Homo sapiens: one gene and its partners. The protein of the gene in region 2 purifies or fractionates together with the protein of the main gene of each other region. This does not show direct contact. Each region holds a gene or a part of one and is shown on either strand. Other genes may lie near its edges.

The links.
Region 1: the proteins of TGOLN2 (region 2) and GALNT2 purify together in Homo sapiens (affinity purification with mass spectrometry; 5 studies listed by BioGRID and IntAct, with this or other methods). This does not show direct contact.
Region 3: the proteins of TGOLN2 (region 2) and GOPC purify together in Homo sapiens (affinity purification with mass spectrometry; 4 studies listed by BioGRID and IntAct, with this or other methods). This does not show direct contact.
Region 4: the proteins of TGOLN2 (region 2) and DENND11 purify together in Homo sapiens (affinity purification with mass spectrometry; 4 studies listed by BioGRID and IntAct, with this or other methods). This does not show direct contact.

What each region holds. Positions count from the first base shown.
Region 1 is NC_000001.11:230,062,255-230,070,260, forward strand, and holds the start of GALNT2 (polypeptide N-acetylgalactosaminyltransferase 2 precursor), read left to right. Parts: upstream 1-4,983; 5' UTR 4,984-5,026; coding exon 5,027-5,152; intron 5,153-8,006. UniProt on the Homo sapiens protein: Catalyzes the initial reaction in O-linked oligosaccharide biosynthesis, the transfer of an N-acetyl-D-galactosamine residue to a serine or threonine residue on the protein receptor.
Region 2 is NC_000002.12:85,317,973-85,324,997, reverse strand, and holds the end of TGOLN2 (trans-Golgi network integral membrane protein 2 isoform 1 precursor), read left to right. Parts: coding exon 1-83; intron 84-2,198; coding exon of another isoform or gene 2,199-2,256; coding exon 2,257-2,262; coding exon of another isoform or gene 2,263-2,293; 3' UTR 2,294-6,971; downstream 6,972-7,025. UniProt on the Homo sapiens protein: May be involved in regulating membrane traffic to and from trans-Golgi network.
Region 3 is NC_000006.12:117,592,501-117,599,525, reverse strand, and holds part of GOPC (Golgi-associated PDZ and coiled-coil motif-containing protein), read left to right. Parts: intron 1-7,025.
Region 4 is NC_000007.14:141,699,148-141,706,068, reverse strand, and holds the start of DENND11 (DENN domain-containing protein 11), read left to right. Parts: upstream 1-3,902; 5' UTR 3,903-3,915; coding exon 3,916-4,183; intron 4,184-6,921.

The DNA of each region.
Region 1 (8,006 bases), on a different chromosome or scaffold from region 2:
GGGTTTTTCCTTAATGTTAAGTACTTTATATGTCAGAGATATTACCTTTTTATCTATAATGTTGTGGAAATAATTTCTCCCAACTTGTCATTTGTAGTTTTTTCAAATTGTGATGAAATATACATCACATTAAATTTACCATCATAACCATTTTAAGTGTATAATTCTGTGCCATTAAGTACATTTACCATCCATCTCCAGAATGTTATCATCTCAAACCGAAACTCCGAACTCATAAATAATAATGGGAACTCCTAATTCCTCTCTTCCTCAAGCCCCTGGTGACTGCCATTTTACTTTTTGCCTCTATGATTTTGGTTACTGTAGGAAACTCATATAAGTGAAATCATTTGGTATTTGTCTTTTTGTGTCTCGCTCATTTCATCTAGCATATTGTCCTCAACGTTCATCCATGTTCTGGTATGTGTTAGAATTTTCTTCTTTTTTAGGGCTGAATAATATTCCATTGCATGGATATACCACATTCTGCTTGTCCATTTATCTGTTGATAGATATTTGTGTTGTCCCACCCTTTGGCCACTGTAAATAACACTGCTATGAATGTGGATATACAAATATCCGTTTGAGTCGCTGCTTTCAATTCCTTTATGTATACAACCAGAAATGGAATTGCTGGATCATATAGTAGTTCTAAATTTAATTTTTTGAGGAACCACTATACCATTTTCAACAGCAGTGCGTAAGGGTTCCAATTTCTCTACATCCTCACCAACACTTGTTATTTATTTATTTATTTATTTTAAAAATGTTTTATAGGCTGGGCGCGGTGGCTCACACCTGTAATCCCAGCACTTTGGGAGGCTGAGGCAGGTGGATCATGAGGTCAGGAGTTTGCGACCAGCCTGGCCAATATGGTGAAACCCTGTCTCTACTAGAAATACAAAAATTAGCAGGGCATGGTGGTACATGCCTGTAGGCCCAGCTGCTTAGGAGTCTGAGGCAGGAGAATGGCTTGACCCCAGGAGGTGGAGGTTGCAGTGAGCCGAGATTGTGCCACTGCACTTTAGCCTCGGCGACAGAGCAAGTGTCCACCAAAAAAAAAAAAAAAAATTTTATATAATAGCTATCCTAATGGATATGAAGTGGTATCTCACTGTGGGTTTTTGTTGTGTTTTGTTTTTTATTTCCATAATCAACACTGGAGGTACATTACAGTTTGTCCTCATGAATTCTAGTTGTTCTCATGAGGTACATTTTGTCCTTGCAGTTTTGACTTTGTCTTTGAAATGCCCCATGTCACATCTAGCTATTCTTCTGATTCCCAGGTCTAGAAACTACAGTGACTTCAGACCTGCCCCATGTACAATGGAAAGACTTCCATAACCTTTTTTCTTCTACCTCTAACATTGTCTAAAGTTTAATCTCTATCATACATCGCTTATTCCATCAAACTAATAATGATTTTACTTTGCAGATCAAATCCTAATGATATACAATTGATAAGTGTTTAGGAAGGGAAGTTTTGGGCTATAAATTGTCCCTCTTCATCTCATTTAATGCTTTTTGGCCTACTCTGTTTTGTTTGATATCAGAATCACAGCACCTGCTTTTTCAGAGTTGGGGTTTCCGTTATGCCTACATTTGAAAATCTTTTATTTTAAAGGGTGAACTGAGCCCACTTATAAATTGTTATATCTGATGTGGGTTGGTCTCAGCTGTGTCATATTGTTTCCTATTATAACTACTGCATCACTGTGCCACACTTACTGTGTTTCTTTCATTATTTGGTATGTATTCTTTGCTATTTTTAGAACTTTTGGGGTTTTGGAATAGGGTTTCCAATATTTGGGAATACATATATTTTGTTGTAGTGATTTTTATTTATATTTTTAATATATTACCCTTAATTCCTATATTTTGTTTCTAACCTTTTAACATCTGGTCTGTCTGTTTTATATGGTATCCTTTCACTACTACCTGCTACTGATATTGCAGACAATGATATTATTCTATTTTCCCTTCGCTCTTCCCCTTCTCCTCCAGTTGTCTTTAGTTGCACCTGTTCTAAGTTTATCAGAAAGTATAATGTATATACACTAGTCTTTCACCTTCTGAATATACAAAATGCTCTCCATTAGTCACTCTGCTGGCTTCCTCAGCTGTCTCTTGGTTGGAGGAAGCTCATTCTCTAAGATTCCTCATGAAAGGCCCATGTGAGTCACGTTCTCTGAATTTTTGCATTCAGGTCATATCTGTTTGCCTACAACCTTGACACTTGAGGGCTGGGTATAAAAATCACTGCCTGGTACTTTTTTGTGTGTGTGTCATGGAGTCTCGCTCTGTCACCCAGGCTGGAGTGCAATGGCATGATCTCAGCTCACTGCAACCTCTGCCTCCCGGGTTCAAATGATTCTTCCACCTCAGCCTCTCGAGTAGCTGCGATTACAGGCACCTGCCGGCTAAGTTTCATATTTTTTTTAGTGATGGGGTTTCACCACTTTGGCCAGGCTGGTCTTGAACTCCTGACCTCAGGTGATCCACCCACTCTGGCCTCCCAAAGTGCTGGGATTACAGGCATGAGCCACTATGCCCAGCCTGCCTGGCACTTTTGTTCCTTGTTAATGCTGCTCCACTGTTGCCTGGCTTTGCATGTTGCTGTTCAGAAGTCTGATGCCAGCATAAATTTTTATCTCTATAAGCAATTTGATCTTTTTTGCCTTTAAAATCTAATCGTTTTACTAAAATATATTTAGGAGTTGATAATTCCAGATCATTTCCCAAGGTACATGGAAGTCACTTTTGACATGTACATTTAAATTTTCCCTTATTCCTGGATTATTTTCTGGGGTTATAGTTTTAATATTAATTAGGTTTTATTGTTTAATGTTTGTACTTTAGGGACTCCACTTAACATGTATTTTGGTCTTCCTTTCCTGGCTTTTATTTTAACCTCTTCTCTCTGAACCTTTTTACTTCTATCTTTATATTATTTTCAATTTCTTGATTGTTTTCTTGCCATTCTTCAGTGTCCTTTTACATATTTTCATTTGAATATATTTTCCCTTGGACACCTTGTAATTATTCTTTGTTTCTGGGATAGTTTTTGTCATTACTTTCAATTTCCTTCTTGAATTTGCTCAACCCTTGTTGCATTTCTTCCTAATTTTTGTCTAGTCTGTCTTCAGTTCTTGAAATTTCTTATCCTAGATATGTGTGTGTGTGTGTATGTGTATACAAATACGTGACACTTTGTTCAGTTTGACATGTGGTATTACAATTTTCTTATGCTTCATGGTTTTTATTGTGGGGGTTTTCATCAGCGAAAATGTTATGATTTATTTTTTATCATCAGAAATGTGATTTCTGTTTTCTTTTTGCAGAATCTTTAAATGCAGTTGATTTGATGTTTTTCTGTTACTAGGCATTTTGAGGCAGGGTTCCCGGTTCAAGAGTGTTTTCTTTTATCTGTGTACTGAAATGCAGTTTTTAATAGATAATGTTGGTGTTTGGGGAGGGGACTGGCTGTCTTCTCTTTCATTTCTGCAGGATTTGTAATTTTCCCTTCTGACTTCCTTCTTTCCCTTCATTGTCAGGCCTCTGAAGGACATTATCTTCTTTTCGTATTTATCTGACTTTTTCCCAGAAACAAGGCTCCTTCAAGCCTCTCACCTCTTGTCCCATTTTCTTTCAAATCTCTTCCCTTGATCAATAAGGCACCTGACCTCTGTTCAGTTTTTAGTTCTTGGTGTTGGACTTTCTATTTATAAAGAGGTGACAACCCTGTACTTCACTTAAGTCCTTGGCAATAGTGGAGGGAGCTCAGTTGGAATTTGGTATCTTTTCTTTCTTCTACTTAAGTAATTTAATGTTCAGTTCATGGCATTCTCTCTAAGTAATGCTGAAGGCTTGTTTTTGTTTCGTTGAGGATATGGGTACGGACTTATATCAGGCAGCTGCCATTATCCTCTGACCGAGAAGCTCCTGAAAACATTTAATATATCAAGTTCTAAGTAAAATTTCTGTCTTTCTTAGGAACACTGGAAGCTTTGCGTGTTGCAAGGGCATCACCAAGGTTACATAGATTATGTTACAAGACAGATCGTTTTCTTGTATCGTTAAAGATGCTTAATGTGCTTTTTAAAGAACGCAACGAATGAGAAAGAAAAGATTTTAAACAATATATTATTGCTTTCCTTCTTCCTCATTTTGTGTTTATTGAAAAGAACAACTCTACCATTGATAGCTCTGTCACCCACAGAAAAATGTTCTTTTGAAAATTACCTTCTCAGTTCCTACCAACTCAAAACCTCCACATCTGCCTATATAGATAAATAAAATCGATACCAGCGGGTCAGGAATGTTTTGCTGCAAGATTAGTGAGAAAACTGCAGCAAGCAGCAGCAAAGTCGGGTTCAAGCGGGCGGTTTGCACCAAAAACTCAGGTCAGTTGGCCAATAAGAGCAAGCCCGTTAAGGGTCTGAGGTGGCCCCAAAGACCAAGGCTGAAGAGGTGACAGTCTGGGCAGGAAGCACCGAGGCCACTACCGCCCCCGTAATCGAGAGGCCCCGTGTGCGTGAGCAAGGCTCTTTGCCCACGTGTGCGCGCGCTCCAGTCGGGTCCCGGGGCAGCCACCTGTCACTCACGGGGGAGGGGGCGGCCGGCGGGGGGAGCACGCTGAGGGGCGGGCGGCCGGGGGCGGGGCGGCGCCCAGGCCCTCACGGCGGAGCCCGGCGTGCTGCAGCCATGGAGACGCGGCAGTCCCCTCCCGCGGCCCGCGCCCCGGCCCCCGCAGCCGCCGCCGATTGGTCGCCCTTTGCTCCCTGACCCCCCTCGCCGCCTCCGAGGCCGCTGCTTCCTGCTCTGGTGCCGCGCGGCGCCGCCGGCCCGGGGCGGAGCTCGGGCGCCGAGTGCGCGCCGCCGCCGAGCAGTAGCACCGCGCGGGAGGAGGAGCCGCCGCCGCGCCCTTCCCCTTCCTCCGCTCCTCCCCCGGCCCCCACCGCGCCCGCGGCCGGCCCAGGCAGCACTCGCGAGCAGCGGCGGCCCCGCCGGCGGCCGAGTTGGGAGAATGCGGCGGCGCTCGCGGATGCTGCTCTGCTTCGCCTTCCTGTGGGTGCTGGGCATCGCCTACTACATGTACTCGGGGGGCGGCTCTGCGCTGGCCGGGGGCGCGGGCGGCGGCGCCGGCAGGAAGGTGAGTGGAGCGCCCTGCCGCGGCCGGGCCCCTGCGCCCACCCCCCACCCTGCGCCCCTGTCCCCTGCCCTCTCCGCGCCGCCCCTGCGCTCCTCCGCCCGGACCTCCGCTCGCGTCGCCCGCCCTCGTCCCGGGCCTCCGCGCCGAGTGCCCAGGGCAGGGGTGCACCCGGCCCCTCTGCGCACGCCGGGCTCCGAAAGGGCGGCCCCCGCAGCCTTTCTCTGCCCCCTCTCGTGGACGTCGCCCCTCTCTCTGCTCGTCGTAATTCGAGTCTTGTCCGGCCGCCGGGAGCCCCATCCCCTGCGGTTGGAAGTTTAGGGATGGGGGTGTTGGGAAACACAAAGGGGGTGGGGAGGAGAGGAGAGAGAGGCGACCGCTTTTCCAACGCGTCATGTACAGCAGGAGAGAGGAGTCCAAGTTTCTTTTCAGCCCTTTGATACCAGCGGCTGCAAATCCTCGTCCCTTTCCCCCTGTCACTCCGCGGGGCGTGGGTTCCGTGTTTCTGCCACCTTCTTTGCCCTTTACCTTTGGGGGGCAGGGGCGGCCGCTCCCGTGCCAAGTAAAGCCCCAGGGCCCGTGCGAGCCAGGGGCCAGTGCGCCCCTGCGCCCCGAGCGAGGCCAGTCCCGGCCGTTCCCTTGCGGCCCCAGCGTTACCCTCTGCCCAACCCGGCCCCCGGCCCTCCCGCGCGAGCCGGACGTGGCCTCCTGCGCTTGCATTTTCCATCCCCACTCCCCGCTTCAGGGAGAATCCCTCTTCTGTGGCTGTGTTTTTAACATGCTCCAGGGGCCGAGTGATCTGGCTGTGGGGACCGTGTGAGCCGCTCTGCGGTTCCGCGTCCTCGTGCCGCCGCTCCGGACGGCCGGGCCCTGGGCATTCGGGAGGATGGTGAGCGCCGAGAGGAGCCGGGACAGCGCGGTCCTGCGGCCGAGCGCCGGCCGGGAGAGCAGGGCGTCGGGCTGTGTGCTGGAGCATGCCGGCAGGGGACGTTTGTAGTGTTTTACTGGCTCCTCGGCTTTGAAAGCAGCGTTATCTTTTCCGAATTCCTGTAACCCTCGTTACTGTGACATTTAGTGTCACCGCAAACCCAGAAAATTCTGAGTTAATGGAGATGGACTACGGGTGGTTGGGTTGGAACAAGAGAGTGGTATCCTGAAACAAGCCAGAGGGAACTAACTAGATGAACAGACTTCAGTTCTGAAGTCAGACCCCTAAATGTCCACGCCGGGGTTTGGCTGCTTCAGAGGTTTTTTCTTTGCTTCATTCATTCATTCATAGCCGAAGATGTTAGGTGGAATGGGTGCCTTATGTGGTTTCTGGTAAATTACGTGGATTTGTTTTATCTAGAAGGGCAGAAATAAAGCCCTCTTTCCACGTGCTGAATCGGCCTAGCTTCTGAGCTGACATTGTACTCTTAGCGTTGTTTTTGTAAAAAATGGTATAGGTAGTATATGTACGCGAAGACTTGGTTTATTCTTGAACAGCAAAGAGCATGCAGGCAGCAAAAGCCGTGCAGTCCATTCAGAGATATAATCGTGTAAAACTGGAATGATTTTTAAAACTTTGCTTCCCGGTAAACTGTGCCTTGGCCACTCTGCATAGCCTGGTGTGCTGGTGAGACCTGGCAAAGCTTTCTGCCTTTCATGCAAAGAAAACCAAACACATAAGCCACCCTTGGCGTTTCTCTTTCCTTAGTCTGCCACTTTCATTAGTACACGTGATTAGAAAGAGCAAGCGTGCTCGTTCGCCTCCCGGAGGCTGATTCCTCACTCTGGTGGGCTTCAGTTCCTGGATGGTGTGAGGGGTCTTCCATGCAGAAGTCTTCAGACACTCCTGAAGTGTGTGATTCTTAGTTTGTTTTTTTTTGTTTTGTTTTGTTTTGTTTTGTTTTTTTTAAAGAATTCCTGGTGGCAATATAGACAGGTACGGAGACCAGGTAGAAAAAGTGGGGGAAATGAACAATTAATTACACATGGATTGGTGATTTGGGATTCTATTCTTTCTGTCAACGAACCATAAAATTTAATGCTACCCCTTAGGATGCTTTAGTGATTTGTCGGTTGAGGAAGAGGTGTGTAAATGCAATAGCTTTTGAAATTGCAGTGGAAGACTCATTAACTTCGTGTGGTGGACCCAGGGTTAAAGAGAAGCCTTAAGATGGTTTCTGAAGGAGGTAAATAGAGCCCTGCTGTCACGAATGCCTGATGTATAGGAAAATCGTGTAGTCTTCTTTCTTCCCCAATTGTTTCCATGGATTTAGACACTAGAAGTGTCTCTAAATTTATTTCATTCTCATACCAAAAAAAAAATGTGGTTTGTTTGGCTTGTAAAGTATGGACATAAAAAAAGATAGCGGGCCATGCACAGAAAGGCAGAATTTAAAAGCTAGCTATAGTTTTTTTAGAGATAAGTGGACCTATATTTTTTCTCTTGCCTCATACTGTTCAAGTCAGGGCTTTTATTCCATATTTAGCCAGTTTCTGCACATCCTGACGTTTTTCATAGGGTACTAGGCTGCAGTATTGGGCTTTAGGGATCGTCTGAGGGGAGTCCAACTAGGATTTCTGCTGCTTCAGCAGCCCAGCCCAGGCTTGTCATTGTGTGCCCTGCCTGTTAAGTAACTCATCACAGAACTGTTATTCTCCACTTGGCAAAACCCAGAGAGCCAGCTCACCTCAGATTGCAGGTTTAGTAAACTAAGCAGGAGGGAGTGCTGAAGACCAATCTCAGGCACTGCCGCACAACTCGGGACTCAACACCCAGGCTCAGGACATGTATGTTAAAGCAGTTTATTCAAAATATTGTTTAAAATTATGTTTCATTTACATTTGTGTCCATACCCTTTCCCCCCATATT
Region 2 (7,025 bases):
TCATTGCTTTTGTCCTGGAAGGAAAAAGATCTAAAGTCACCCGGCGGCCAAAGGCCAGTGACTACCAACGTTTGGACCAGAAGGTAAGGAAGGAGGAGCCAGGTCCATGGGAGGGATAGGAGGGATAGGCAACGTCAGATGGACCCAGTAGTGGGCTTGCATTTGCCATGAAGCAGCAGTGGCTGATTCTGGGGATGCGGTTGCTGTTGCTGTTGCATTCGCCCTTTTTAGACAACAAACTAGAAACATCTAGATACACATATCTGTGACGTTAGAGCTAGCAGAGACCTTGGAATACTCTACAGCAGCTACCTCCCTTCACAGATGAGGAAATAGGCCCACGCAGAAACACTCTTTTTTTTTTTTTTCCGCTAAGTTTCTACTGCAAGTTAGTGGCAAACTCAGGACCTGATAGCAACTCCCTAGTCTCCCAGTCCTGAGCTTTCTGCATTCTGCCAGCGCTCCATAAACTTTAATAGGCATTTGAATCACCTTGGGGAATTTTGATAAAAAGCATTATCTGATTCATTAGATGTGGGGTGGAGCCTATATTTCTACATTCTTTTTTTTTTTTTTGGAGATGGAGTTTTGCTCTTGTTGCCCAGGCTGGAGTACAATGGTGCAATCTCGGCTCACTACAACCTCTGCTGCCTGGGTTCAAGCGATTCTTCTGCCTCAGCCTCCCGAGTAGCTAGGATTACAGGCGCCACCACCACGTCCAGCTAATTTTGTATTTTTAGTAGAGATGGGTTTCTCCATGTTGGTCAGGCTGGTCTCGAACTCCCAACCTCAGGTGATCCGCCCGCCTCGACCTCCCAAAGTGCTGAGATTACAGGCATAAGCCACCGTGCCTGGCCTGTGTCTACATTCTTAGGAAGTTCCCAGGTGAAACCAAATGCCACTGGATCCACACTTTGTGTGGTAAAGTGCTAGACTGTGCTCCCTGGAAACACGAGCCTGGAAGCACATAGGCCTCCAACTCCCCACATCAGCCTGGCTTAAGCACCGTAGGCTGGAGTTCCTGAGTACAGCCAATCCATTCCTCTGTCAGACAGATAAGCCCTCCTTCCACCCCATGGCAGCAGAGCTAAGCAAGGGTCTCTCTAAAGACAACCTGTCTAAGCAGGAAGACTGTACTCTCACTGCGTTGCTACCAGCATGCACCCTTCCTTCTGCTTTCAGCATAGCAACAGCCAGGACATTGGCAAAGAACCATTGGTGGCCCAACTATGAATTGTTCCCAGACTTCCTGCAGGGAACACGATTCTCTTGCACAACTCAATATTAGCTACAGAACGAGCCACTGAGCTCAGAATATCTTTGCTAACTAGTCCAGTAGGCTAGCTTTACAATTTAGCTCTGGACTACTGCCTTTTCAGATAATTGACTTTAAGGGTTTTCCCCCTTTTATGATTTTTGTTTGTTTGTTTTTGAGACGGAGTCTTGCTGTGTCGTCCAGGCTGGAGTGCAGTGGCACAATCTTGGCTCACTGCAACCTCCACCACCCGGGTTCAAGCAGTTCTCCCTCTTCAGCCTCCCGAGTAGGTGGGATTACAGGCGCCCACCACCACGCCCAGCTAATTTTTAGATTTTTAGTAGAGATGGGGTTTCACCCTTTTGGCCAGGCTGGTCTTGAACTGCTGACCTCAAATGATCCACCCACCTCAGCCTCCCAGAGTGCTGGGATTACAGGCGTGAGCCACCACACATGGCTTATGATTTTTAAAAAAATACACATGTGGCTGGGCATAGTGGTTCACGCCTGTAATCCCAACAGTTTGGGAGGCAGATCACCTGAGGTCAGGAGTTCTAGATCAGTCTGGCCAACATGGTGAAATACCATCTCTACTAAAAATACAAAAATTAGCTGGGCATGGTAATCCCAGCTACTACTGAGGAAGCCGAGGTGGGAGAATCGCTTGAACTTCGGAGGCAGAGGTTGCAGTGAGCCAAGATCATGCCACTGCACTCCAGCCTGGGCAACAGAGCAAGACTCCGTCTCAAAAAAGAAGAAAACCACCACCAACAAAAAACACATGTAAATAATTCACAACAGTACAGAACAGTATGAAGCAGAAGCCAGGATTCCTCTCTCTCCATCAAGTGTATATCTTTCTAGTGTTAGGTTTCATTTCAAACTTTAAAAATCATTTTGTGTGCTATTTTAATTAATTGCTGTTTCTGTGGTGGTGGGTCAGTATGTCTTAATTCTGAATGTTTTCCCTGCACCTCCTAAAAGATCTTTTTTCCCCTAAGTCCTAACAGAATGGTATATTCCTCTGGAAAAAGATGAACGTCACCAATGGATTGTGCTGCTCTCGTTTCAGCTTTGATTTTTTTGTCCTTGAGAACCTTGTCCTCCCTGCTGATTTGTTTCTAAATCAAAAGAAATGAAGAAAAAAGTACTGTGACCTGAGAGACACCCTCCTCTAGAATTTAGTGGCGGGTCTGGGCTGGCAGAGGTAGGGGGCTGCTTTGGGCTTTGCACCTGCACTTTGGTGACATTGTTCTTCTGTGTTCCCTTTATTTATGCTGGTGGCTTCCATCCGTTCCTCCTCTGAGGGTGAGTGGAGGGGTATATGGAAACACGGCTATGACCAAAGGGAGATCCCAGCCTGGGCAGGCTGCGCTGCTGACCACCCTCCCTGGGGCCCGGGCTCTGTAGGAAAGTTGGTCCTTGACTGTGGCATTGCACTCTGCACTGTTTCTCTCTGCAGACCTAGGGGAAAACTGCAGGTGGAAGTGCTTTTCTACTAAGGCCTCTTACTTTGGGGGGGATGTGCCCTACAGAAGACATAGAAGATGGGGAAATGCCAATGGGCAAAGAGCTACTTTGAATACATAATTCTCTTCAAAGACTTCAGCAGCAAACCAAAACAGCAGGTTAAAAAAAAAGATGCTTTTTTGGGTGCAAGTCTAACCTGTCTAGCATGAGATCTTCTTGATTTTCTGATTATTTTATGTAGCTTGAGACAAAGTGAATCAACTTCCACTTAGTTGTACCGAGCATAAAACAGAACTTGGGCTTCCTGGCAGTGAGGCCACTGTCCCATCACAGATTTTTAAAATAAATATGATTTGAAGTAGTGTGATCTTTCACACAATCATACTCAGTAGGAACTTTTTGAAATAGGGCAAGTTTATGTTTCATGCGAGAAAACATGAAGGAGGGTTTTGGTTTTGGTCTGCAGTTTTTCCAAAGGGCTTTTATGAGATACATTTCCCACAAAGTCCATTTTGCCTTTGTTGCCTAAAACAGACAAAATAGACTTAGATTTATTAATAGAAACTATACTCTCTGCCAATTTTACCTCAGTGTATTTAATGGTCCTTTAATCTGATATAAGATGCCAAGGGTATTTGATAAAAATTCTTCTTCCATGCCATGTCAGGAGTTAATACAAATGAAGAAATTCCGTGGGTTCCCCTGGGATAAGTGAGGGTAGTGTCTTGGACAACACTATTGTTTGAAGGTTTATCTTTTCTAATCATGCTCTACCGCATTGTAGAGAGCCTAAAGAGAGTTGTTTCTGAGCTGATCTCAGGGAAATACAAATAACTTGGGAGATGAGGGAAATAAGATGAATTCTGTGCTGTCAAGGCAGTAAGTCTGAAGAAAGGACCATGCTTCTTATATTATCTTCCACCTTGCTTAAAACAGCCCATAGCTTTGAGTTGACATTTTCATTCTTGGCGGATAGCCTACTTTATGAAGGTAAGGAATGAACTCCTACCCTTCTTGGGTCATTCTCTGTACTGATGCGTTAGTCTTATAATACTTTGCACCAACCTGAGGAATCTTCTAGGCTTCTCTAGCATCCCCTAAGACTGTGGCTATTTCACGTCTCTCTCCCTGCCTGCCTTCCTTTTCCCTTCCTTTCCCCTCCTCATGTTTTCTGGTTGTGCCCATCTGTACCAGCTCCTTTCCATCCACCTTCGTATGCACCCAGATTTTTCTGTTCCCATCTGTCCTATTTGTTATTCATCCCGCTGCTCAACTTCTCCAGTATGTTGCTTCCCTTAAGTTGCCATTCATTCTCTTCATGACTTTTACTAACTCACTTCGGTCTCTGTCTGTCAACTAAACTTTTCTAAAGGTTACCAGTTATCCAATCACCAAATCCATGGCTTTTTCTCAAAGCTTAGTCTTGTCCTTGGCAGAACTGGACACTATTGACCATCCAAATGGAAATTCCCCTTTCTTGGTGTCTCTGACAAATGGTCCTTTGCCTTATCTTGTGCTGGTGGTGAAGAGGCCCTCAAAGCCAGGCCTCTCTATTCCTTTGACTGTCTCCTCAGCCATTAACCCATTCTTCATCCTCGGAGTGAGTGATTCCCAAGTCTTTGTCTTGGCTTAATCCCTAAAGAACCCAGTTCTGCTGGTATCGAATAGTTCAGCTTGGTTGTCATTGAAAGGAATTTCTCTCTTCTGTCCATCAGCCTGTCCCTCCCAACTGTCTAGGACAGTCTTCGGTCACCTAAATTCCTAACTGCAGACTTTTGCCCTTTTTCTCTCTCATCACCAAAGTCCCATCCATTTTTTTTTAATAAAAGATCCTCAGCTACAGTCTTTCCATTTTCCTTGCTTCTCTTATTGCACACCCCCAGCCCATTTTGCTTCTCTCTTGGATTTTGTTTTTTCAGATCCACATTTATTGGGTTTCCTGTCCAGCTTCTTGGAAAGGAGCTCACTCTTGGAAAGACTGATCTTTCCAAAATATTTTCCCTGGTCTGAAGCTTTGGTGTGAACTTCTCAAGGCTTAGAGAATCCAGTTACAGACCTTTTGGGGTTCAGGATGCTATAGATTGACACCCTCCTGCCTGTTTTTCTCTGCATCCCAACCTGGCCAAGGCCCCTCCTGTGGGGTGCCCATCTGTGCCTTTATTCCGGCTGTGCCCTCGACTTTCCAGCTTCCCATGTTTCTTTGGTTAGGTTTCTCTCCCTTCCTTCTTTCTCCTTCCCCAATCCGCCTGTTTCGTCAGGGCCCAGTTTGTTTCCTCATACACCTTCCTCACTACCCCACCCCACATGGTTGACTCTTTCCCTCAGCTCCACCAGCTCTTCATCATGCCACTCATTTCAGAACTTGAGCAAAACAGGGCAGTCAGGATCTGATGTCTTTCTGGTCTCCCTAAGAAAACTAAGCTCTTGAGGGACAGCCCTTGGCAATGCTTTCCTATCTGCTGATCATGGTGACCTTCCTTAGGACTTCCAGAGTTCAGTTCCTTCTGGCAGAGAGGTTTTCTTTCTCCATGCCATATGGATGTGACTCAAATGAGGGGTCCCACAGCTTTTCCTGGCTACCACTTGCTGTGACCTTATACATGTTGGGGTTTGCTCTTAAAGAGGAGAGCAGGAAGAAAGGTTGGTTTCAGAAACCAAGAGGGTCGGCAGTGGACGCGTACATTTTGTCACGGAGTCCACAGAGCTGAGCTTTTGAGCAGACTCTGAGAAGTATCATTGCTTGTGTTGAAAGAATACAACAGGATTTAAGTTTCTCTTTAGAAATTGCACTGAAGAAAGGCCGGGCGCGGTGGCTCCCCCTGTAATCCCAGCGCTTTGGGAGGCCGAGGCGGGGGGATCACGAGGTCAAGAGATCGAGACCATCCTGGCCAACATGGTGAAACCCCGTCTCTAATAAAAATACAAAAATTAGCCGGGCATGGTGACGTGCACCTGTAGTCCCAGCTACTAGATAGGCTGAGGCAGGAGAATTGCTTGAATCCGGGAGGCGGAGGTTGCAGTGAGCCGAGATCGTGCCACTGAACTCCAACCTGCCAATAGAGCGAGACTCCGTCTCAAAAAAAAAAAAAAAAAAGAAAGAAATAGCATTGAAGAAAATACCGCACATCAGAGGAAAGCTTATTTTCTGCATGGTGTCTTTTCAAAGATAGAATATTTGAAGCATGTTTTCTAGCGATTGTGTGGATGAGGGTGAGCTGGCTGAGGCATCGCTCAAGCTGGGGGGTGGTGTGTAAGAAGCACGTGGAGCCACAAGAGGCACCTCCTATAGTCAGCTAAGGGCTTCCCTTTCTGCGCCCAGCTTTTGGGTGAAGGGTGATTTCTATTAGACACATCTGTGCTTCAGTCATAGATGTTAATAGAGGAAGCAGTTTTCCTGCTGCAGATTCCTGAATAGAGTTGCTGAAAGAGTCTACTTCTGGACTCAGGGGAAGTTGAAGGCCAGTCTGTGTAGAAAGGCTGAGGCAACGGGGAAAGACCTGACAGCTAGTTACATACGCTCTGACATAGTACTCCCATGATGGCTTCCAGTGACACATGTGCTGATAGAATTCTAAACCTCTGGAATTTCCCTGCTGGCGACTTCTATGGCCGTTGACTGTACAGGGTAACCTGATGCCAGATGCTATGGGCGTGATGAGAACTAGAGCATTGCAGCATGGAGGAAACTGTGAGGCACCAGATCCTGTGCTTCTGCAGGCCATTTTCTGAAAACCCCTGTTAGGAAGGTTGGATTTGGCGTGACTTGCTTGAGCAAGAGTCCTGGGGAGAGATTTTGAGGTTTAATTTAACGGTATATCCAGAGCTAACAGTGACTCAACTCGTCTAGTTCTGCAAGTCAGATGTACACTTAGAGTCTCTCTGTGAAGGGTTTGGGTCTGAGCTGTATAGTATGTCAAACTGCCAGTAAGCCAGCCCCTCACCCTCTGATAGATATTCCTTTAATGCACCAGACTTCATGTTTGATAAATGATTAATGGTTGAAATTGTTTCTCTTCTTTTGTGTTTTCCCAGTTAATAGATGGTCACTGTTTCCACAATGTTTTATACTTTCAGCTTTTTGTAACTTAACTATAATTACTTAATTTTATTTTTTTAAAGCTTGTTGTGGTCTAATGAGAAGTATTTTTCAGTGCATAATGTTTTTCTGAGCTTCTGTAAATGCCATCCCAATGTGGTTTGGTTTTGTTGAACAGAAACCAAAATAAATTTCAAAATGTTAAAGCAATGGATTTAATACATTTATTTATTTATTTATTTTATTTTATTTTTGAGACAGAGT
Region 3 (7,025 bases), on a different chromosome or scaffold from region 2:
GTACACGTTTAGCAGCTTCTGCCGTTTTTATGGAATCAATTGTGTATTGCTGTGGAAAGAAGTTCATTGTCAGCAGTGCCTTTCAAAGTAGACTTGCTGCTGTTCCATCTACAGAATTTCAGTGGTTGCTCCATATATTGTTTGAAAGCTTGAAACAATTTCCATATTTTCTTGCCCTTTTTTACTTTTTAGGAAAAGGATTGAATTTGTTCTATTGTTTTAATTATATGGACATTAAGACATATTTGAAACCACTTATGGTTTAATATGACAAACGTGACATTCAGTGGTTTCAGAGGTTAATACCTTTAATCATATTACTGTAATAAAATATTTTTATATAATGAAGAAACAGATACCTCCAATTTGGGTAATTTATAATGTAGTTAACATTAAACACTATATTTATTATTAAAATATTAAATTTTGCTGCAAAAAAATCATAGGTTACTTTTTTACTTGAATAGGCTATTAGGGCTATTCTTTTTTATTTTTAATTGACATAATAGTCGCATCTTTTTAGGGGGCACAGTGTGGTATTTGGATACACATAATAATGATGAAATTAGGGTAATTAGCATATCTGTCACCTCAAACATTATTCATGTTAGAAACAATTCAAAACCTGCTCTTCTAGCTGTTTGAAAATATACATTAAGCTACTATTAACTGTAATCATCTTATGGTGCTATAGAATACTAGAACTTTTTCCTCTTATTTAGCCATAATTTTGTTACCCCGGGCTGTGGACCAGTACTGGTCCGTGGCTTCTTAGGAACTGGCTGAACAGCAGGAGGTGAGCAGTGGGCAAGAGAGCATTACAGCCTGACCTCTGGCTCCTGTCAAATCAGTGGTGGCACTAGATTCTCATATAGATTCTCATAGTAGCACAAATCCTGTTCCTGTTGTGAACTGCACATGCGAGGTATCTGGGTTGCCAGCTTCTTGTGAGAGTCTAATGTCTTTTGTTGAAACCATCCCCACGCTGTCCTGTGGAAAAATTGTCTTCCACAAAACCAGTCCCTGATGCCAAAAACATTGGTGACCGCTGTGTTAACCAACATCTTCCTACCCGCCTCACCCTTCCCAACTTAACAGTAACCACTGTTGTATTCTCTACTTCTATGAGGTCAACTTTTTTTTTTCTTTTTTTGAGACAGGGCCTCACTCTGTTACCCAGGCTGGAGTGCAGTGGTGCAATCATAGCTCACTGTGGCCTCCAACTCCCAGCTCAGTTGATCCCTCTGCTTCAGCCTCCCAAGTAGCTTGGACTACAGGCATGAGCTACTATACTCAGCTAATTTTTCTATTTTATTTTTTTTTTTTTTTAGTAGAGATGGGGTTTTACTATGTTGCTTAGGCTGGTCTTGAACTCATGGGCTCAAGAGATCCTCCTGCCTCAACCTCTCGAAATGCTGGTATTACAGGTATGGGCCACCATGCCTGGTAAATCAATTTTTTTAGCTTCTACATTTGAGTGAGAACATGCATTATGTATCTTTCTGTGCCTTGCTTATTTTTACTTAATGTCCTCCAAGCTCATCCATGTGGTCTTCAATGCAGGATTTCATTCTTTTTTATGGCTAAGTAGTATTCCTTTGTGTATATATACCACTTTTTTTTTTTTAATCTTTTCATCTGTTGTGGAAATATAGATTGCTTCCGTATCTTGGCTATTGTGAATAGTGTTGCAATAAACATGGGAGTGCACATATTGTTCAAGATACTGATTTCCTTTTTAGGGGGCATATATCCCTAGTGTATATGTTCTATTTTTAGTTTTTTGAGAACATAGATTACATCTTAAAATTAAATACAAATGATATCCATGTGACTGCTTTTTGCCATAGCAATATTTGGGAAGAGTCATATCTGAGGAGAATGGAATAGCAGAGAATATCAGTGTATTTTGAGGTGGTGCCATTTCAAATTGCTCACATCTCTCACACTTTCCACATGCTTGTGAGTTTTTGCTGTCATGAGCCACTTGATCATGGCTATGCTAGAATCATAGGCATTGATTGGAATAGTAGTGGCACTGTGGAAGAAAAAAGAGAAACTTTTTATCTGAAGAATGTGCCCCCCTTCACCACTTCTATTCAATGTAGTACTAGAAGTCCTAGCCAGAGCAATCAGACAAGAGAAAGAAATAAAGGACATCCAAATGGTTAAAGAGGAAGTCAGACTGTTGCTGTTTGCTGATGACATGATAGTATACCTACAAAGCCCTAAGGATTCATCCATAAAGCTCCTAGAACTGGTAAATGAATTCAGCAAAATTTCAGGATACAAAATTAATGTACACAAGTGAGTAGCCCTCCTATATACCAACAGTGACCAAACTGAGAATCAAATCAAGAATCAGCCACTTTTATAAGACTTGCAAAAAAATTAAAATATTTTGGAATATACTTAACCAAGGAGATGAAAGACCTATACAAAGAAAACTATAAAACACTGCTGAAAGAAATCATAGGTGATACAAACAAATGGAAACACATCCCATGCTCATGAATGGGTAGAATCAATATTGTGAAAATGACCATACCACCAAAAGCAATCTACAAATGCAATGCAATTCCCATCAAAATACCACCATCATTCTTCACAGAACTAGAAAAAACAATCCTAAAATTCATATGGAACCAAAAAAAGCCCACATAGCCAAAGCAAGACTAAGCAAAAAGAACAAACCTGGAGGCATTAGGTTACCTGACTTTATACTATAAGGCCAAAGTCACCAAAACAGCATGATACTGGTATAAAAACAGACATATAGACAAATGCAACAGAATAGAGAACCCAGAAATAAAGCCAAATACTTACAGTCAACTGATCTTTGACAAAGCAAACAAAAACATAAAGTGAGGAAAGGACACCCTATTCAACAAATGGTGCTGGGACAATTGGCAAGCCACATGTAGAAAAATGAAACTGGATCCTCCTCTCTTACCGTATATAAAAATCAACTCAAGATGGATCAAAGACTTAAATCTAAGACCTGAAACCATAAAAATTCTAGAAGATAACATTGGAAAAACCCTTTTAGATATTGGCTTAGGCAAAGACTTCATGACTAAGAACCCAAAAGCAAACACAACAAAAACAAAGATAAATAGATGGGACTTAATTAAACTAAAAACTTTGTGCACAGCAAAAGAAATAATCAGAGTAAACAGACAACCCACAGAGTGGGAGAAAATCTTCACAACTGTACATCCGACAAAGGACTAATATCCAGACTCTACAAGGAACTCAAAACAAATCAAGAAAAAAACAAACAATCCCATCAAAAAGAGGGCTAGGGACATGAATAGATAATTCTCTAAAGAAGATACACAAATGGCCAACAAACATGAAAAAATGCTCAACAACACTAATGATCAGAGGAATGCAAATCAAAACCACAATGCAATACTACCTTACTCCTGCAAGAATGGCTATAATCAAAAAAATAAAAAAAAATAGATGTTGGCACGGATGTGGTGAAAAGGGAACACTTTTACACTGTTGGTGGGAATGTAAACCACCAACCACTATGAAAAACAGTGTGGAGATTCCTCAAAGAACTAAAAGTAGATCTACCATTTGATCCAGCAACCCCACTCCTGGGTATTTACCCAGAGGAAAAGAAGTCATTATATGAAAAAGATACTTGCAAACATGTTTATACTAGCACAACTCATAATTGCAAAAATATGGAACCAGCCCAAATACCCATCAATCAATAAGTGGATTAAAAAAATGTGGTGTGTATATATACAGACACCTGGAATATTACTCAGCCATAAAAAGGAATGAAATAGTGGCACTTGCAGCAACCTGGGTGGAATTGATTGGAGACCATTATCTAAATGAAGTAACTCAGGAGTGGAAAACAAAATGTATGTTCTCACTCATACATGGGAGCTAAGCTAGGAGGATGCAAAGGCATATGAATGATACAATGGACTTTGGGGATCTGGAGTAAAGGGTGGGAAGGGGATGAGGGATAAAAGATGACACATTGGATACAGTGTACACTGCTCAGGTGATGGGTGCACCAGAATCTCAGAAATCACCACTAAATAACTTATTCACATAACCAAACCCCACCTGTTCCCCAGAAACCTATTGAAAAAACAAAACAAAACCCAAACAAACAAAACAAAACACAACTGAGTTCCTTTCCATTGTGAGGCCTAGAGAGGCATTGGAATGAAACCGCAGTTATGGCACTCCCTTTTGACCTAAGCAGTTATCTCTGGAAGCCACCTTCTATGTAGGATTTAGACTAACTGACGCCAAGTAGCCATAAAATACCATATGCTGGACACCATAAGTCATACCTTATAGTGCAACAATGAATAGCCAGTCACTAATCAGTGATTGTAAACCAATGAGAATTCTTATCAAGCAACTTTGTATCTGCCTTGTTCCTTTTTCCCTTTAAAATCTGCTTGTAACTCAGGTGCCAGAGCACTCCCCAGGCATCTGGGAAATATGTGTTGAGTAGCTGTCCTCATTTTGGCTCAGGTAAACTAAAGTATATTTTGTGCCTCAGCCTTTTCCTTTTAGGTTTACAGTAGGAATAGTAATACTAGCAGTAGTAGGTGTGTTGGAATAGAATAAAGATTGTGAACCAATACTTTAAAAAATTCACCTCTGCCTTGAAAGAGTGTTCTGCCTGTTACTCCTTTTTTAAAGTAACAGCACAACAATACACCTTCTTTCACATCCTCCTTTCCCTCAGCAATTGCTCTGTTAGTATCTCTTTGAAGTGATTTATTATTCATAGCCAACAGTAGAGAAACTTTTAACTTTGATCTAGAGCCACATTGATAATGAACTGGTGATATGCTTGTCCCTTTGCTGCTTTAAATCTGTCCTGTTTTTAAATAGGCTGTTTTGCAACATTGAAGCTTAAGTTTAATATTGATCCAGTACGCACTTATGAACACGAATTATGTGCCAGATGCTGTATTGGGCACTTAGGATACAATGGAGAGCAAAAAAGGGATGTAGTCATGGCTTTTATGGAGTTTGGATTATATTGGAGGAATTTGTTGGGAGAATAATCATGTAAATGAGAAATTGCAACTTTGATGAATACTATGAAAGGTACATAAGAGTAAATGAGACCCTATTTTGGGATGTCAGAGAAGGCTTCCCTGAGGAAGTTATTGAGCTAAGACATAAAGGAATTATGTGTAAATAGGAATGAATTAAGCTAAGAGAAATAGGAATGCCATTCAACATTGCCGTAGAGGGAATGGGAAGTGAAAAGCACCTGTGGTGGGCAAGCGCATAGTGCATTTGAAGATTCGAGAGATAGTTGGTATGTGTAACAAGAGAAGAGGGCAAAAGAAGCAAGGCACAAGATAAGTTTGAACAGACAGAGAGGGACTATTTCTACATGACTTTATGGCCATGCAAAAATATTTGGGGCTTTATCATAATCGTGGGAAGTCTTTTAAACCAGTTCGTAGCCTCAGATATGAAGTTAGAATAGTTCACTCTGACTATGGTATGGAGAAAATTGCAGAGAATGACATGAATGAATGCAGAAAATTGTTTAGAAGGTTTCTGTTTATGTGAGATTATGATAGTGTGGAGTAAGATAATAGAGGTAGGAGAAGGTATTCAGAACAAGAGAAACTGGAGAGGTAAAAATAAAAAAAACCTAGAGATGGATTGGAACAGAGGGATGAGGGAGTTCAGGATAAATCCAAGTGACAATCTTGTGCAGCTGGTTGCCTGAATAGATAGATGAATGTGTTATATTATTAGCAATAACAATATTGCCAACTTTATTGATCAGTTACCATGGGCCAACCTCTCTTCTGAGTCTTTTACATAGACTGATTCATCCAATTCTCACAACAGTCCTGGAAACAGGTTTATTAGTATAGTTACTCCAACTTTACAGGGATTAAGTAAGAGGCCTGAGGCTACGGAGCTAGAGAAATCAGTCTCTGCACAAACACATTATGTCTGATGGGGGATGGAGGAGGTGGAGAGAGAAGCAGACAGAAAGAGTGAGTGTGGCTGAATAGATAGCAAGAAGTGAGATTGTAGGGTACAAGGGAGGTTTTGTTTTCATTTTGTTTTTAAATAAAAACAAATAAAACATAAGTCTGTGAGAAGCATCTACTTGAGAGAAAAGCCAAATATAGAAAAAGAGTGGGGTAGTTAATATTAGTAAGATTTTGTAATAACAGCTACTTAGAAGAGGGAGAGAATGGGAGCAGACAGTAGGAGGTTGTGGAAGTTTCTGTCTGATGGCTTTTTTTTTTCTGTAAAATAGGAGCCCACGTCAGTTGCTAAAAGTAGGTGAGAGTAAGAGCATGAGGCTAGTAGAAGAGGTTTGAGATAGTAATGGAAGAGTGGGAGAGCCAATTGGCCAGAGAAACAGGACTGCCAGGCATTGTTGAGGAATGGCTTGGGGTTAGTTATCATAAATTATGGTGCAACCGGTCTGTACTGTTGTGTGATTTTCTCTAGCAATGCATATCTGTTTAGGTACAGGCACAGTAATGAGAGTAATAACTAGGTTTATTCAATGTTATAGCAAAGGAGTTTGTTATACAGACAAGTGTGTTATTGAAGTGAAAGTGGTAATGGGGCTGATGAAAAGGAGATAAATTGAAGACTAAGGAAGGAGAATTGACAGGATTTGATAATTATGTAGATGCAGGAGATAAGAGAAAGGGTTAAGGATAACACTGCATTTCTGTTTGGGAAATGATTGATCAGTATCTGTAGTGGGTTGAATCGTATCCCTCCAAAATTCATATCCACCCCCAAAACCTCAGAATGTGACCTTATTTAGAAAGAGGGTCTTTGCAGGTGTAATTATGTAAAGATGGAGGTAAGATTATAGTGGATTAGAGGGGGCCCTAAATCCAATGAAAGTGTGCTGATAGGAGACAGAAAAGGCCACACACAGACACAGAGAAGAAGGCTATGTGATGATAGAAGCAGAGATTGGAGTGATGTATCTACAAGCCAAGGGATGCCAGTGATTGCCAACAGCACCAAAAGCT
Region 4 (6,921 bases), on a different chromosome or scaffold from region 2:
TCATTTTTAGCCTCTTTCCATTATGAAAAATTTCATCTCTGCTTCAGTATATGTTAATCCCACAGGCATCCATCCCAGCATAAAGCTTCAGGTGATAGTTGAGATGATGTGTCAAAAGGGGGACCCATGTAATCTGTGGCAATAAGAGGAAAAGGGGAGGGTTTCCCCCTTAATGCCTAACATATAGTAGGTGTTCAATAAATTGTTTTTGGATGAATTTGGGGAAATAAATTAATATATTTCAATCATGTTTAAAATACTCCATATTTGACTTTTTAAAAAAAATTTGAATTTTTTTCTTAATGTGTCAGGAGTTGCTGCACAGGGGGAAAGCGAAGTTCCCAGGAGTAAGATGTGCAAGAAGCGGGCAGCCTTGCATCTCAGGGCTGAGTTCCCTCAACTGTGTGCTTGAGGGAAGTTCTCCCCTTGCAGACACACTGCTGAGTGATAAGGAAGCACCTAGACTCCACTCTGACCAGACTTGGTTCTGAGGCCTATGAAATGTTGATGGGAAGAACAGAAGCAGGAAAATCTATCTATTCAAATTTGCAAGACGTGGAAACTTTTATTCACCTTCCTGGTTAGACTGTTCCTTTGTCAAAGTAAAGCTAAGGCCATGGAAAATGAGCTATTTGAGAGTTTGTCGCTCCAAGGAAGAACATGCTGGCCTAATTGTCCCCCAAGTCAGGAGAGAGAATTGTAAAAAACACTTAAACAGGCCTAAGTAAAGGTCCAGCACATTATTTATTTAAGACTGAATTAGAACTGAGTCATTCCGACTCTGAAAAAAGAGTGTTGTTGGATTCTTATGTATTTAATGGGTCTGCCCTATTGAAAACCATTGTGAAGTATGGTTTCCCAAGCAAGAAATGACACTTTCACTGTCAGTCTTTCTAGGAGTCTGGCAGAATCCAGGACCGGGATTACCCTTATTTATGAAGCGACCTTAGACTAACAGTGGCTCTCTGGGTCTCCAGACAATTGGCCAGGGACTCTAAAAACCAGAAACAAAGTTGAGAGAACTCCATGCTGGTGGAGAAAAACAGCTGGCCTTTATCACCAGAATGTGCCCCATAGAAGCAGCAAAGCAGCAAGCGACGTTCTTAAACAAGGGCCTGTGGGCCTCGTCAAGATCTGGAGGAATCATCTACGACTCACTGCTGAGTGAGAGGGCTAGGCAGTGTCTTTAAGGTCCTGCCAGCTTTAACATTGTATGCTTTTTCTTTTGTTCAATCTCTCACCACAACTGGAAGTGTTGCCTCAACTACACAGGAGAAAGTTTGCAGTAACTTAGAGAAAACATTATTTTAATCACCAGTGTATGTTCTCCTGCTCCCTGGACAAATCCATCAGCAGCGGCAACACTGACCAGGTCCAGATTGGGGCCGCTGCGGTGGATGTGAATCCATTGAAACTAGGGGTCTCCAGTGCTCCTGACTCCTCACAGCTCTGTTCCTATGACAAGGATGGTCAGCAAAGCCAGCAACCTTGAAGGGGGACCTTCTTCTAATCTCCTCCCTGCCTGCTGAGAGAGTGTACAGAAGCAGCCACTTGTCAGCTGCGATGAATCCAATGATAATTACATAAATCATTAACAATACTTGATATTTGCCCATCACATTTCTCATTTCAAAGTGCTCATAAAATTGTATCTCATGGGTGGCACTGCCGGCACAACAGAATTCCAAGGAAGGATTACGGGCTAAGTAAATAAAGCCTGGAGGCTGCTTTAAAGCCTAGGAGTCTGTTATTAACCCTTTCCTCCTTTTTGTTTAACTTTTTCTCATGGAAATGTTCAAACATACCAAAAATAGAGAAAATACTATAATGAGTCCTTATGTATCCATAACCTAGCTTCAAAAATTATGTATGGCTTTACAGTCTTGTTTAGTTCATAACTGCAACTTCATTGAGGGTGAGTGCTGGGGTATTGTGAAGCAAATCAGTGACAACATATTTTACCCATGGATACTTTAGTGCCATTAATAAAAACCCCTAGGTTATTCTATTAATTTGAAATCTACTATAAATCTATCTGATGAATAAATCAAACAGATTTTAACAAATTGCTTCTCTTGCCAAAGTTTCCCATTTGCTAGAACTAGAGATTATTCATCAAAATAGCTGTGACAGTAGAAACATACCACTTGTCTACACACACAACACATAGCATACTTAGAATAGGAATAGATCTCTGATTTGATGTCCCAGTAATTTAGAGATTGATGATATCCTACCGATACTTTAAGGAGCAGACATTTTAAAACGATGGTACAGACCCACTAGTCTGACCTTTTCTCTGTTAGTCACAGTTGGGCTGTGGTCATTCCCGGAGTCCCTAAGATTAGAACAGGTAATGGGTCACCTGTGTGACCTGCACCAAGGCCAGCCCCACCGCCCCCGGCCACAGAAATAAGATCTCTCTCTCTCTCTGTCTGTCTCTGTGTGTGTATGTATGTGTGTATGTCTGTTTCTGCCTCTCCCACATCACATACATACATACACACACACACACACACACACACAGTGCCTCACTGGGAAGAAATGAGCAGGTATGGAGGAGACATTCTCAGAGATGGATCTCTACTGTGCTCCGTCTTGACTTATTTGCTGTCAGTGCTCCAAGGGATGAGCTCTGGAGGTCATCAGTAACTTGGTCAAACATCCACAGCTACTTCTTCATCCTTCTGATCCAATCAAGAGATTCCTATGCTGAAGTTTTACCTTTCAGGAAAGGCTGAACTAAATATGTAAATAATGAAAGTAGACCCTGTTCTTGGGGGTAAAATGCTGCATAAGTACATTCTTTATTGTTATATCATAGATTTTAGATTAGAAGTGGCAGCCTAGGGCAGTCATTGATTATCTTCTTAGGGATAGGGGTTAAATCACATTATCATTGCAGTGCTGACGTGTAGGACACGGAGGTTCATAAACATCCCGTGGAGTAGCACCCAGCACATAGCTCTACTGGGTCCTTTTGCGAACAGGCAAACCATGGAGCCTTGCTGAACCCTGGATGAACTGTGTACCTCCTTCTCTTGCCACCTCCTTCTTTCTATTTTAATAGCTATTCCTATTTTTATACACATCTCCTCTTAAAGAGTTACTTAGCTGCTAGATTTACCTCAAGGATTGAGGCATGTAAAATTTATTTTTAAATATAAAATGGGGGTTCACAGAAAACCCCTAATCCATTTCCAAAGCCATCAGCTTTAGAGCTGACTTTCCTCTTTCTCCCCTGAGCAACTTCCTTTTCCTGATCTTCTGAGGGAATATCCCTCGTCCCACAAATGCTCCAGCACCTCCTAATTTAATACCCTCAAGTTGTATATATACCAGGAAATAAACTCATAATCTCCATCCTAATCAGTTTGTAATATAAAAGGAAGAACAAAATTCCCAAACTTTAACCCTATGGCCTTTTCAGTGTTTATTGATGAGTATATTGCAAACACCTGGGTAGCCAGAGCACCTCTGCTTCACTCCTCTGCTTAGAAGCAGCTTCTGCCACACATCCAGGATTATGTAATACATATCTGTCACGGTCCACAGGACCAGCGGACTTTAAAAAATAATGGTGACATAAAAACTCACAGTGGTAGCTATACCACGGAACCCTAGGTGAGAAGGCACCTCCACCCGCACACAGGTGTATGGACGCAAGGATGAACGTTCCGGCCGCACGCGTCCCACACACGGACGTGCACACGGGCGCCTCCGAATAGGCTCGCGGTTCCCGAAGCCGGCTCCGCGGACGCCTGCTCTGGCTCCGTGGGAAAGGCGCCTCCGCGGCGGGGCCCCGGGCAGCGCCAGACCCGGCGGGCGGCGGCGGCGTTGGCGCGGCCAGGCGAGGGGGGTTCCCGCAGCCCGCCCGCCCCGCCCCTCGCGCCCGCGGCTCCGCCTCGCCTAGCCATGGTGGAGCAGGGAGACGCGGCGCCGCTGCTGCGCTGGGCCGAGGGCCCCGCCGTCTCCCTGCCGCAGGCCCCGCAGCCGCAGGCGGGAGGCTGGGGCCGGGGCGGCGGCGGGGGCGCCCGGCCGGCCGCGGAGCCGCCCCGGAGGCGGGAGCCCGAGGAGCCGGCCGCCCCGGAGGTGCTGCTGCAGCCCGGGCGCCTGGAGCTGGGCGACGTGGAGGAGGACCAGGTGGTGGCCGTGTTCGTGGTCACCTTCGACCCCCGCTCGGGTGAGGGCCGCGCCGGGGCCAGGCGCGTGGGGAGGGTCGGGGTGCCCCCGAGCTTTGGGGGCGCGGGGGAGGGGCTCGCTGCGCGCGCACCTGCCCTCCCGGCCCCGCACCCCGCACCAGGGCCGGCCCCGGGCTCCCGGGCTTGGGGAAGGGCGGGGGTCGGCCAGTCCTCAGCTCTCTCCCTCGGGGCGCAGCTGGGTGCTGGCGCGCGGCCTCTCGGAGCGGCCCCGAGGGCTTTGTTCCAGCCCCGCCGACCTCCTCTCCCCTCCCCTCCTCTCCTCTGAGTCCCAGCCCCACAGTGGTGTTCGCACTTCAGTGACAGGGCATCCGGTTTGTGGCCACGTTGGGTTTTGTTTTCTTTTCTTGGGGGCTAGAAGATTTTTCACGTTGTGCGGAGGAAACCCCCCGGGCGAGCGCCCTGAGCTCCCCGCTCGCCCCCCATCCCGTCCCCCGCTCCCCGCTCGCCCCCCACCCCGTCCCCCGCTCCCCGCTCGCCCCCCACCCCGTCCCCCGCTCCCCGCTCGCCCTAGCTCCCCGTCGCTTCCTCTGGGGTAACTTTCCTAGCGGCCAAGTTCACTTTCTCTGACTGCATTATTTTGAGGAATTAACGCCGGGAGCATTAAGGGATGGGGCTGAGGGATTCAGCTGAAGGCTGATTAAAGGAGAAGCCTCCCCGGATAGGCTGTCTTTCGGAGATGCTTGGAGAATTAAAGTCTTATCCCACATAATCTTAGCCTAACCACCCGGCAGGGGGGTGTGCGTTTTCCAGGTGAGAGTCCACGGGGGACAGAAGGTGGAAGAACGACCCTGCGCGCCCAGGAAGCCTTGGAGGGTCAGCTAGGGACTTCTGACTCTGAGAGTGGCTCTGCTGTTCGGGGTTGGGGGAAGGAGGTGTCATCGCAGGAGTCGTGGTGTCAGGGCTTAAGGAAACCCAGGTGTGACTGTCAATGTCTCCAGGGCAGCTGCTGGAGTGTGGAGTGCCTGTTCGTGCGGGAAAATATTGGCTGCTTTCTGGGATGAGGTGGGATGGAGTGGAGAAAAAAAGGGGTTAGGATCTGGAGAAGGGGAATCTGGTATGGCAGCTGATGATGGGTTCCAGGCCGGTAATTTTGGGGTTCTCAGCTGTAGGACACAGGAAGAATGTGGGATTCACTGTGGAGCTCCATTTGCAGGGACAGAGTTTGTGGGGACAATTCAGGCCTTTGTGACTTCTGCTTGTTTCTTTGCCACATTCCATGGCTTTCAAACTCTTTTGACTGATCTATCATGTGAAGTTAATTTTACATCACAACCAATATGCTCACATACACGTACAGTACTTATGTAACTGAAATAGACATTTCATGAAGTAGTGCTGACTCCTTCTACATGTAATGCATTCTTTTTTCTCTCTCTTTTTTTTTTTTTTCAGACAGTGTCTCACTCTGTCGCCTAGGCTGGAATGCAGTGGCTCTTTTCTCTTTTTTTTAAGTGTTCATCACACATGCTGGTTGACTCGCATTTGAGATTCCTAGATACCAGTAGTTTGAAAAGTATTGGTCTTTTTTGACCAAAGTTACCCGTAATGCTAGACAAAAACCAATACTTTGTAACTAATCATATTGCTTATACTGTACCCCATCATTTACAGGTAAACAGCTACCAGCATTTGACTTATCCTGGGAAATATTTCAGAGTAACTAGAAGGAATAGAAAGGGCACATTCACACGGTCTGATTTAGTATTGGTAGCTCCAGTGGTAGAGTCTTAGGGAAGGGAAAGAGAAAAGAAGTTTTATACTAATTACAGACAGATAGGGTGGATAATACTGATAATTGATCAATTATTGATATTGGCCAATTGATATCTATCAATTGATAAAAGCGCCAGAGGGCTAGTACCTGCCCCCATTCCTTGTCAGTCACAGGCAGTGAGCATGGCTTTGTGAATTTGTGTATACGGAGTGTGTGTGTGTGTGTGTGTGTGTGTGAGTGATGGTTTTCAGACTAAGGCTACTGTGCAAAGAAGGGATTGTAACACATTTAGACATTTTGTGCAGGCATTTTACTATAATGCTGTTTGATTTATTCTGATCACTGCTCTGTAATTTGATGATCATTTATACCCAATTTGTAAATGAGGGAACATACCAGGGATGGTTAGGTAATTTGGGAATATTAAGTAGCCAATAAATACTTGACTGTAAGTCCCATTGTCTTTCTAGTATACTATGCTGCCTGAACCCCTGCTCCCTGGCACCTGATCCTTACTTATCCAGGGATGGAGGAGAAAGGAGGGAGGAAGAGAGAGCGCAGTGTGAGAGGGAGCACTTGTAACTTGTGTTTTTTTTGTGTTTTTTTGTGGGGGGAAAGCAGTCCTTTACTGACCATAAATGTGTTTGTCTCTTTTGTCATCTATCCTAGTCCTAAATGGCACTTTGCTTCCTGTAAAAATACTCTGATAGACCTTGTACCATATAATTTTATTTTATATATATCTTAAAAGTAGGAGATGTAGTGAATGAATGCTACTGAGCTTCTGAGGGCCTCAAGGTTAGCACTAGGACAGGGCCCTCAGAGAGTGCCTGATGTACCCCTTGTGTGATGGTTCCGGTGGAGTGAGGCCCATAGTGGCACAGTGAGCTGGACCATCACTGGCCCAGCATCTTCCCCCCTTTACTGCTGAGGCAGATCTGCTATTTGTTCCTATTTAATATTGGCCCACCCAGACTTTTGCCCCTCCTTCGCCTGTGTTGCCAA